Linked DNA regions of Homo sapiens. Changing the gene in region 2 together with the main gene of any one other region gives a genetic interaction. Each region holds a gene or a part of one and is shown on either strand. Other genes may lie near its edges. The genes, in order: CKAP5, MBTPS2 and ERH.

Region 1 (2,969 bases), on a different chromosome or scaffold from region 2:
TCAGCCTCCCAAGTAGCTGGGACTACAGGCTTGAGCCACTATACCCAGCTAATTTTTGTATTTTTTTGGTAGAGCCATGTTGCCCATGTTGGTCTTGAACTCCTGGGCTCAAGTGATTCACCCACCTTAGCCTCCCAAAATGCTACGGTTGTATGAGTGAGCCACCAGGCCCAGCCTTTGTAGCCATTCTTTCTAAATATGTCTTTCCACTATAGCAGCAAACGCCTCCATCATCCCTTCAGTGAACAAATACCCACTCCCATGTTCCCACTATAAAGGAGAGACAAGTTTAATTTCAGGAGGCTCCGGGGCCACCTGAAAACGATGACTGGAACCTTTACAGGATTAATCTTCCATCAATCTTTCATTTCTTGGACATCAATTGAATTGAAGGTGGGCTACAATAGGAAAGTTCCTTTGAACTTTATAACTGCCCAAAATCTCCTCCTGAATCCAGAACCTTTTCATCCTGAAGAGTTTTTCTGACTGTGGAGGGAGGTCCTGTGGAATTTATTCCAGAGGTGAATACTCAGCTCACTTTCTCATCCTTACTCTGACTGAATGTGAAGCAACTGTTAGCCTGGACCAAAAGAGACTCATACAACCAAGCAGCAAACCACTAAGATTTCCCAAACTCCATTAGTCAAATGAACACAAATCTAGTTGTAGTGTGAGAACCACTGAAGCCCAGCCAATCTCTGGGCGCAATCTTGTGTGCCTTTGGTCAGCAAAGTGGTAGGATGCCCAAGAGCTTCTTGAAACGACTGGTGATAATTGGAGGGAAATCATGACCAAAATCTCAAAACAAGGAAGGATGAGATTTTTCTGCTCCCTAGGAGCTGTTTGTGGAGAGCAGGGAAGGAGAGTTCCTTCCATTCCAAAGGAATAAAAGACAGCTCCAAGTCTGTGAGCCAAGAAAAAGGGAAGCTCTGTAAGCAGTAATTAACCTTTCTCTAACTGGCTGAATACCCAGCTGGTACCAAAAGTTAAAAAATTGCTGCCCAACACTCCATGATATGGAGCATCTTGGGAGTCAGGTATAGTTAATGCAAACTTTATTTATAAAAGACTCTTAAATTAGTTGTATCATGCCATGCATTCATACAGAATACAGTGACCCTTCAGGGCGACAGAGAAGAGCTCACAAACTGAAAGGAAAACTATTAAAGAGTTTCTAATATTAACTATTAAAAAGCTAGGAAAGATTAGGACAATTTTACAAATGAGCAATTAAAAAGAAAAGAAAAGGATCTGGGAACTAGACTGAGCAGAGAGGGGGCAGCTGTTTACAAGTCTGTACACTAAACTCATCCACGGACAGTCTTCTAGAGCAGCAGGACGCTGACAGAGAGAAGCAGAGTATGTACAAATACTTGTGCCACAATGACTCCTCCCCCTAGCTCCACGGCATGATACATACAACCAGTTTGTATACACTAGGCCTGCTGAGGCCATTTTAAACTATGAGGACTTCTAGTTTAGTAAACTAAAGCTGCAGGGTGCCGGGGGAGTGGGGCAGCTTCATTTGCGACTGCTCTTTATTCTCTCCAGTCTTTTTTTCAAGTCGTCTATGTTAGCTGTGGAGGAGGAGGAGGTCACAGTTCCTGAAGAGTGAGTCTGGTTAGAATCCAGGTCTGAATGCTGGTGCTGCTCCCGTGACTCCCGGAGCTGAGAGAGTTTGCTGTGGAGCATGTCTGTGGAAGAGGCGACAGTAGGAACTGCTGGTTTGGAGAGCAAAGAGGTCAAAGGAGGTCGGTCATCTTGCTATTGAGAGAAGGAGAGAGATTGTCTAAGGTCAGGTCAAGCAGGTCAAGATGCAGCTCCAGAACTACAGCAAGACTAAGCCACTTCTCTGTGGGCCAGCCTGCCTCGGACCTGCTTGTGACTACCCTCCCTGAACTGCACAGAAGAAAAGGAGCAGTACCTTTGTGTTGTCCAGACCACATCGCTGTCGGAGGATCTTTAGCCTTTCCAAGTAGACAGATGGCCCCACTTCTTCCCCATTTGTGTTACCTATGGAGGACACTGTGCTTGTGGGCGTGGGCACACATGTGACTTCCATCTGAGGGGAGATGCCTAGAGGGGAAAAAGTAGAAAGAATATTCAGATATCCACATATCCCCCTTCTAAAGTGCCTTGGTTAATCTCCCACCAAAAAGAACAATTAAGAATTTCCTATACTTGAAAACGACAAATTCCACAAGAATCTACCTGGAGTTGGTGATAAGGGTGCTCTGAAATATACAATATAAGCTTCTTGAGAATGCAAAAAACTGATATAGAAAGGCAGAATGTAAATTGGGTCATCCATCTGCATCCTGGGTTATGCAGGGGATTGTACTCCAGTAATCCCAGGGCTGACTTGGGCAATCCAAAAAGCTGAAGCTACTCCTAAGCATACTGTAATTGCCCAACTGAAAAACCCGAGGACCTTAAATGTTTGGAAGAATTAGATTAAGTTTGGACCAATGTCACATAGGAGAAACTCATTTGAACCTGTGAAGGAAGCAAGGTGTCCAAGGCTATGGTGTATTCATGGGGAAGAGAAGGTGTCCAACAATTATCTAAAGAGGGCATAGAACTGGAGTGTCTGTAACCCTACCACTAAGATCAATATTCTGGCAGGAGAGAGGAAAACCAAAACAACAAAAAATCCATCACACTTCCTAAATTTCTGAGAATGAACAATGATACAATGCGGGCCTTTAAAATATTTCACTTGGTATCAATGCAAATGCATTCCACAGGCCCCAAAGGTAAGGTACTGGGAGGAAACACTGCCTTATGGTAAATAGAAAAGTAGAAAGGTTACTCCAGGGAAAAAGGACTCCTTTAATGTAAAGATGAGGAGAATCCTCTGAGGGGGTGAAAAATGAATGAAGAATTATGTAAAAGCCAGCAATATGAGATGTCTGAATACTCTAAGGCACAAAATCAATTTAATAATCAGTGGGAATACATGCTTGGGT
Region 2 (3,500 bases):
TTTTCATCTTTCAAGACTCTTTTTTAGTTGTTAGCAATTAAGTGATACTTGTGAGGTCTATATTTGTAATGCTGTATTCAAGGTAAAATTGATCAAGATCCAAGTAACACACTTTTAAAACATGTTTCACACCAGAAAGGATACTTGACAAATGTCTCCACAACCACTGGCAGATCTATGCTTAGAAAGTTAAAACGTGGGATAAAACTGGTGATGCTCACTGAAAAAGAAAAATAAGGAATAATAAATATTATTCATACCAGAGAATCAACAGCATTATGAATTCTACCATATGGTTAAAAATTGGGCTAGCAGATTAAACTGATTGAGAAAGCCCTTCCTAAACATATGCAGGCCATATACCTCATATATAAAAGCAATCAATACTTCTAGAACATCTAATAAAAACAGCAGAATGAAAAAATACGTCCCAGTGTGTACTTACATTTTGAGGCGAGAGTAAGAAATTTACATTAAGAGTCCTTACCCTTTCAAAGAGGTATAACCTTAAAATTACATTTACTCCTACTATTATACTACTTAACCTCTTTCAGGTCTTTTTTTTTTCTTCATGGCTAAACCAAGGATTAAGATGAGGGGATTTAAAGTCTCATCTACTCTGTGGATTCCATAATCCTGTTTTTGTTCAAAACATTTTAAAACTATCCTGTAATTAGTCAGAACTCACAGTACACATTCCTGAATTACCCCCACTAGGGACATTTATTCATTTGTTGAGGTTTTATTTCATAGTTACAGTCTACAGTAATTTAGTGTCAAACTAATAGATAAGAAAAATGACCTCGGTTGTATCTCAGGATATGACTATGGAGCAATGAGAGAGTCTTTTAAAGAGTGACATAGGCTGGGTGCGGTGCCTCACGCTGTAATCCCAGCACTTTGGGAGACCAAGGCGGGCAGATCACCTGAAGTCAGGAGTTTGAGACCAGCCTGACCAATATGGTGAAACCCTGTCTCTACCAAAAATACCAAACATTAGCTGGGCGTGGTGGTGGGCACCTGTAATCCCAGCTACTCTGGAGGCTGAGGCAGGAGAATTGCTTGAACCCGGGAGGCAGAGGCTGCAGTGAGCCGAGATTGCGCCATTGCACTCCAGGCTGGGCAACAAGAGCGAAACTCCGTCTCAAAAAAAAAAAAAAAAAAAAAGAATAACATAAAACCCACATATCCATTAACTATGAATGAATAAAGAAAATGTGGTCTATCCATACAAAGGAATATCATTTGGCCTTAAAAAGAATGAAGTACTAATTCATGCCACAACACAGATAAACCTTGAAAACATTAAGCTACATCAAAGAAGCTAGTCATAAAATATTCCATTTATATGAAATGACAAGAACAGGCAAATTTATAGAAACAGAAAGTAGATTGGAGATTGCCAAGGGCTGGGGGTGTTGGGGAGATACAGGGAGTGACTACTTAATGGTTATGGAGTTTCTTTTTGGGGTGATGAAAATATTCTGCAGCTAGCTTGTGGTAATGGTTGCACAACTCAATATATTAAAAATCACTGGGCCGGGCACAGTGCCTCTTGCCTGTAATCCCAGCACTTTTGGAGGCTGAGGAGGGAGAATTGCTTGAGCTCAGGAGTTTGAGATCAGCCTGGGTAACAAAGTGAGACTCCGTCTCTACAAAACCCAAAAAATTAGCCCAGCACAGTGGAACACGTCTGTAGTCCCAGCTACTTGGGAGGCTGAGGTGGGAGGATCACTTGAGCCCGAGGTGTGGAGGTTGCAGTGAGCCAAGATTGAGCCACTGCATTCCAGTCTGGGCGACAGAGTGAGAATCTGTCTCAAAACAAAACAAAAACAAACAAACAAACAAAACCCCACTGAACTGTAAACTTTAATGGGTAAATCGCATGGTAAACTATTTTAAAAATCTTGTACAACAAAATGAGTTAGACTACATGATCTTTAGCCATAAAGAACTTAGTCCAATGATGCTGCCACTGCTAAAATGATTATGCTGGCCCAGTTTTGAAAGTATATTCATATGAAAGTCATGTGTCACACATAAATTACAGTTACATCCCCATGCATCCTGGCATTCTCTAGGGTATGTTGCTCTTGCCTGTTTTGGGGAGCTTGTATAAATTTAATAAACTCTCAGAGGACATCTGAGAGATCACCTATTTGACCTGGGCATAAATGGTAGGGAAGGAAAAATGTGTCACTCTCCATAGGCAGGCATGGATTCAGCTCCACCTTACTTTATAAATTCAGATTATTTTCCTACTGCATAATTTTCACTTAATGCTTAAGAACAAGTTAACAAGACTTTGATAAATGATCAAATTTATAATAAATGTATTAATTCAAGGATTTGTAGTGAGTCTCTACCACTGAGACTATATGTGATCTTAATGATTTTCTAAGGGTCTACCACAAAAATACTCACCTGTGTAGTGAAGATGCAGAGGATGTCCTACGTATAACATATCAATCTGAGGTGGGTGTTTTACTTTTATTAAGCGAGTGTGAGTTTCCAAAGAAGGTATTATACAGAAACTTGAACTTGAGCTTTTTTTACAGTCTTTATTGGTTCTGCAAACTTGAGTTGCTTCAACTGCTTTCCGGGCAGGAAGACATGTATGCTATAAATAAAATATTAATCAGTCAATATTAAAAATGATTAAGAAAAACCTAAGTTACATTCCTTCAATATTTTTCATGTCACCTAGCATATCAGGAATGAGGTTCATATAAAAGAAATGCCATTTATGTGCATCTACTATAAAATAGATTCAAGTACCCCATTTGGGTCAAATAAGATATTATCACTATAAATTTTTAAAGATTTTCAGATGAAATGTGACATGTGAAATGTAGAGATTTTAATAAAATGATACAAATAGAGCAAAAGAGAGAAGTTTCCATAGATTCCATTTTAGCTCTATATGCTTATTTTTTAGTAATTATATCAGACAAGCAAGACTGCTTCAGGGACAACTTACCAAACGCTTATTAAAATTATTTCTGTAGGAAAAGCACACATCTGTGAGGCTGTGATTGTTACAGCATTCAGTTGAACCATCTAGTCGTTTGTATGCTAAAGAGAAATACACTGTTTATTAGAGTCTCTTATATAAAAATACATTTGTAACAAAAAATGCCTTTAAGACAAAAAGAATAAGTAAAATGGCATATGAATTTAGAAGCAACTGTATAATTCAGAGTTCAGCTTGAGGGCTACTTGCTGCAGTTTGATTTTACATTACCAAAAGAGATCCATTCAATTTTAAATCATGAAGCAGCAGTTACCCTAGGTTAGTTGTCCTCATATAAACTGAGCTACCCATAAAGCCGGAGTTGCAGTGTCTCAGTAGGTTTCACAATAATAAGTCTGGCTGGTCAAGCACAAACATTTAATGAACTACTATTATGTGCCTGAATGCCAATGATCCAACATTACTGCTGAACCCCTGCACTGTGGTGCTGGTAAACAGAGGGGGCCAGAGGTTGCCTAAGACATCC
Region 3 (3,736 bases), on a different chromosome or scaffold from region 2:
AATATAATAAAAAAGATAATGAGCAAAATCATTAATAGCAAGCCCACATTACTAATTATAATTAGCTATAGAGTATATTATCTATTTAGTTTTTATTCAATAATACTCTCCTTTTTTTTTTCTTTGAGATGGAGTTTTGCTCTTGTTGCCCAGGCTGGAATGCAATGATGAGATCTTGGCTCACTGCAACCTCCGCCTCCTGGGTTCAAGCGATTCTCCTGCCTCAGCCCCCCAAGTAGCTGGGATTACAGGCACCCGCCACCACACCCAGCTAACTTTTTGTATTTTTAGTAGAGACGGGGTTTTACCATGTTGGCCAGGCTGATCTTGAACTCCTGACCTCAGGTGATCAGCGTGCCTCAGCCTCCCAAAGGGCTGGGATTACAGGCTTGAGCCATCGTGCCCGGCCTGATACTCTCCTTTCTTATTCCCACAAAAGGAGAATACACCTTTTCAGTCTATTCCCGCTGTCAACTATTTTAAGACTACTATGATGAATGGCTAAGTGACATAAATGCTAGTTATCTAGAAAAAACATGTCCTATACTGTATACATAAGCCTTTTATTAGCTCCAAATTAACTTTATAAATTTCCTAATAAAAACACTATTCAACCACAGAACTATTAAACAACTATCTTAGGGCTTTTTATTGCTACTGGCATACTACATTGTGATCACAGAATATCACCCATGAGTTAATGAATGGAAAGAAAATAAAAACTAGGAAAATAAATTCGTATATGTTAAAAAGGCATTGACCCACAGTTATACTTTTTTTTTTTGAGATGGATTTTTTGCTCTTGTTGCCCAGGCTGGAGTGCATTGGCACAATCTCGGCTCACTGCAACCTCTGCCTCCCGGATTCAAGCGATTCTCTTGCCTCAGGCTCAGCCTCCCGAGTAGCTGAGATTACAGGTGTGTGCCACCACACCCGGCTAATTTTTGTATTTTTAGTAGAGACGGGGTTTTGCGATTTTGGCCAGGCTGGTCTTGAACTCTTGACCTCAGGTGATCCACCCGCGTCGGCCTCCCAAAGTGCTGGGATTACAGGCATAAGCCACCATGCCCGGCCTCCATTATACTTAATGGTTAAAGACGGGATGCTTTTCTGTTAAGATTAGGAAGAATACCAGAATATTTATTGCGCTACTTGTATTCAACATTGTACTAGAAGTTCTAGCCAGGGCAATTAGGCAAGAAAAAGAGATAACAGGCCTTCAGATTGGAAAGGAAGAAGTACAGCCATCATTATTTGCAGATGACATTATCTTACAGATATAAAATCCTAAGGAAACAATAAAAATCTATTAGAACTAAGAAATGAGTACAGCAAGGTTGCAGGATATAGGATTGGTATATGAAAATAAATTTTATTTCTATGCCTTAACAACAAGTCTGAAAATAAAATTAAGAAAACTCCATTTATAACAGCGTAAAAAAGAATAAAATTCTTAGAAATAAACGAAACAAAAGTAGTACAAAACGTGTACACCCTACACTATAAAATGTCATGGAAGGACTCTTTTCTTTCCCTTGAGACACAGTCTCATTCTGTTGCCCAGGCTGGAGTGCAGTGGCCCAATTGCAGCTCACTGCAGCCTTGACCTCTTAAGTTCAAGTGATCCTCCCAAGGATCTGTGACTACAGGTACGCGCCACCATGCCCAGCTAATTTTTGTACTTTTTGGAGAGCAGGGGTTTCATCATGTTGCCCAGGCTAGTCTCAAACTCCTGGGCTCAAGCAATCCGCTCACCTTGGCCTCCCAAAGTCCTGGGATAACAGGTGTGAGCCACCACGCCATGCAGAAAGTAAAGCCACCACACCATGCTTAATAAATGGAAAGACATCCCATGTTCATGAGTTGGAAGACCTGATGCCAATACTCCCTCAGATGATCTACGGATTCAACGCAATTCCCATAAAAATCCAAGCTGTTTTTGCAGAAACCAACAAGCTAATCCTAAGTTTGACACAGAAATGCAGGAGACCCAAGACAGCCAAAATAATCTTGAAAAAGAAAAACACTGGAGGATTCAAACTTCCTGATTTCAAAACTTACTATGAAACTACTCCAATCAAGACAATATGGTATTGGCATCAGGATAGGTATCTACATCAATGGAACAGAAATGAGAGTCCAGAAACAAACCCTCACATTTATGGTCAACTGCTTTTTGACAAGCATGCCAAAACAATTCAACAAAGAACAGTATTTTCAACAAATGATGCTAGGACAACAGGATAGTCACATGTGAAAGAATGAAGTTGGACACATCTCTACAACAGACCAGAGACTTAAAAGTAGGAGCCCAAACTATAAGACCCATAGAAAAAAATAAAGGCATTAATATTTGTGACCTTGGATAAACCAATGGTTTCTTAGATATGACACCAAAAACACAAAAATATGCAAGTTAAAGTTTATAAAAATAAAAAACTTTTGTGCTCCAAAAGACACTATTAAGAAAGTGAGAAGACACCACAAACGGGGAGAAAACCTTTATAAAACATCTATCTGATAAAGGACTAATGTCTAAAAATATACAAAGAACTCCTAAAACTTAACCATAATCACTCAATGAAAAATAGGCAGAAGATCTGGATACCTCAATAAAGATGCAGATGGCAAATAAGCACATGAAAAGATGACATTGTATGTCATTAGGGAATTGCAAATTAAAACAATAAGATACCTTAGAATGGCTAAAATCTAAATCAGTGACAACACCAAATGCTGGTAAGGATGTGGAACAGAAACTCATTCACGCTGGTGGGAATGCAAAATGGTCCTGCCACGTCTGAAGACAGTTTGGCAGTTTCTGACAAAGCTAAACATACTTGTACCACATAATCTAGCAATCACTCTCCTACGTATTTACGCAAATGAGCTGAAAACTTAGGTCCACACAAAAGCCTACACAGAAATGTTTATAGCAGCTTTATTCATAATTGCCAAAAAATAGAAGCAACCAAGATGCTCTTCAATAAGTGAATGGATAACCAAACCATGGTACATTCATTCAAGGGAATATTATTCAGCAATAAAAAGAAATCAGCTATGCAGCCACACACACAAAAAGTAAGAACCATAAAAGCATACTGCTAGGTTGGCCAGGCATGGGGGCTCATGCCTGTGATCCCCAGACTTTGGGAGGCTGAGGTGGACGGATCACTTGAGGTCAGGAGTTTGAGACCAGCCTGGCCTACACAGTAAAACCCGTCTCTACTAAAAATACAAAAAAAGGTAGCCAGGCATGGTGGCGCAGGCCTGTAATCCCAGCTACTTGGGTGGCTGAGGCAGGAGAATCGCTTGAACCAGGGAGGCAGAGGTTGCAGTGAGCTGAGATTACGTCACAGCATTCCAGCCTGGGTGACAGAGTAAGACTCTGTCTCGCACGCCAAAAAAAAAAAAAAAAAAAAAAAAAAAGCATATTGCTAGGTTAAAGCAGCCAGTCTGAAAAGGCTTCATACTCCGTAACTCTAACATGACATTCCAGAAAAGGCAAAACTACAGATATGGTAAAAAGATCAGGGGTTTGGGGGTGGTGGCAGGGAAGGAGGTATAGGTGGAGCAATGGGGATTTCTGGTAGTGAAACTACTCTGTATGATACAGTAAAGGTAGATACACGTAATTATACATGTCAAAACCCACAGAATGTTCAACACATACAGTAAACCCTAACATAAACTGCGAACTTTAGTTAATAATAATCTATGAATATTAATTCACCAA

What was found.
Region 1: changes in MBTPS2 (region 2) and CKAP5 together harm fitness more than expected from each alone (negative genetic interaction), as found in Homo sapiens cells (one large-scale study listed by BioGRID).
Region 3: changes in MBTPS2 (region 2) and ERH together harm fitness more than expected from each alone (negative genetic interaction), as found in Homo sapiens cells (one large-scale study listed by BioGRID).

What each region holds. Positions count from the first base shown.
Region 1 is NC_000011.10:46,742,502-46,745,470, forward strand, and holds the end of CKAP5 (cytoskeleton-associated protein 5), read right to left. Parts: intron 2,077-2,969; coding exon 1,925-2,076; intron 1,765-1,924; coding exon 1,522-1,764; 3' UTR 547-1,521; downstream 1-546. UniProt on the Homo sapiens protein: Binds to the plus end of microtubules and regulates microtubule dynamics and microtubule organization. Acts as a processive microtubule polymerase. Promotes cytoplasmic microtubule nucleation and elongation. Plays a major role in organizing spindle poles.
Region 2 is NC_000023.11:21,877,617-21,881,116, reverse strand, and holds part of MBTPS2 (membrane-bound transcription factor site-2 protease), read right to left. Parts: intron 3,076-3,500; coding exon 2,981-3,075; intron 2,621-2,980; coding exon 2,425-2,620; intron 221-2,424; coding exon 145-220; intron 1-144. UniProt on the Homo sapiens protein: Zinc metalloprotease that mediates intramembrane proteolysis of proteins such as ATF6, ATF6B, SREBF1/SREBP1 and SREBF2/SREBP2.
Region 3 is NC_000014.9:69,388,253-69,391,988, forward strand, and holds part of ERH (enhancer of rudimentary homolog), read right to left. Parts: intron 1-3,736. UniProt on the Homo sapiens protein: May have a role in the cell cycle.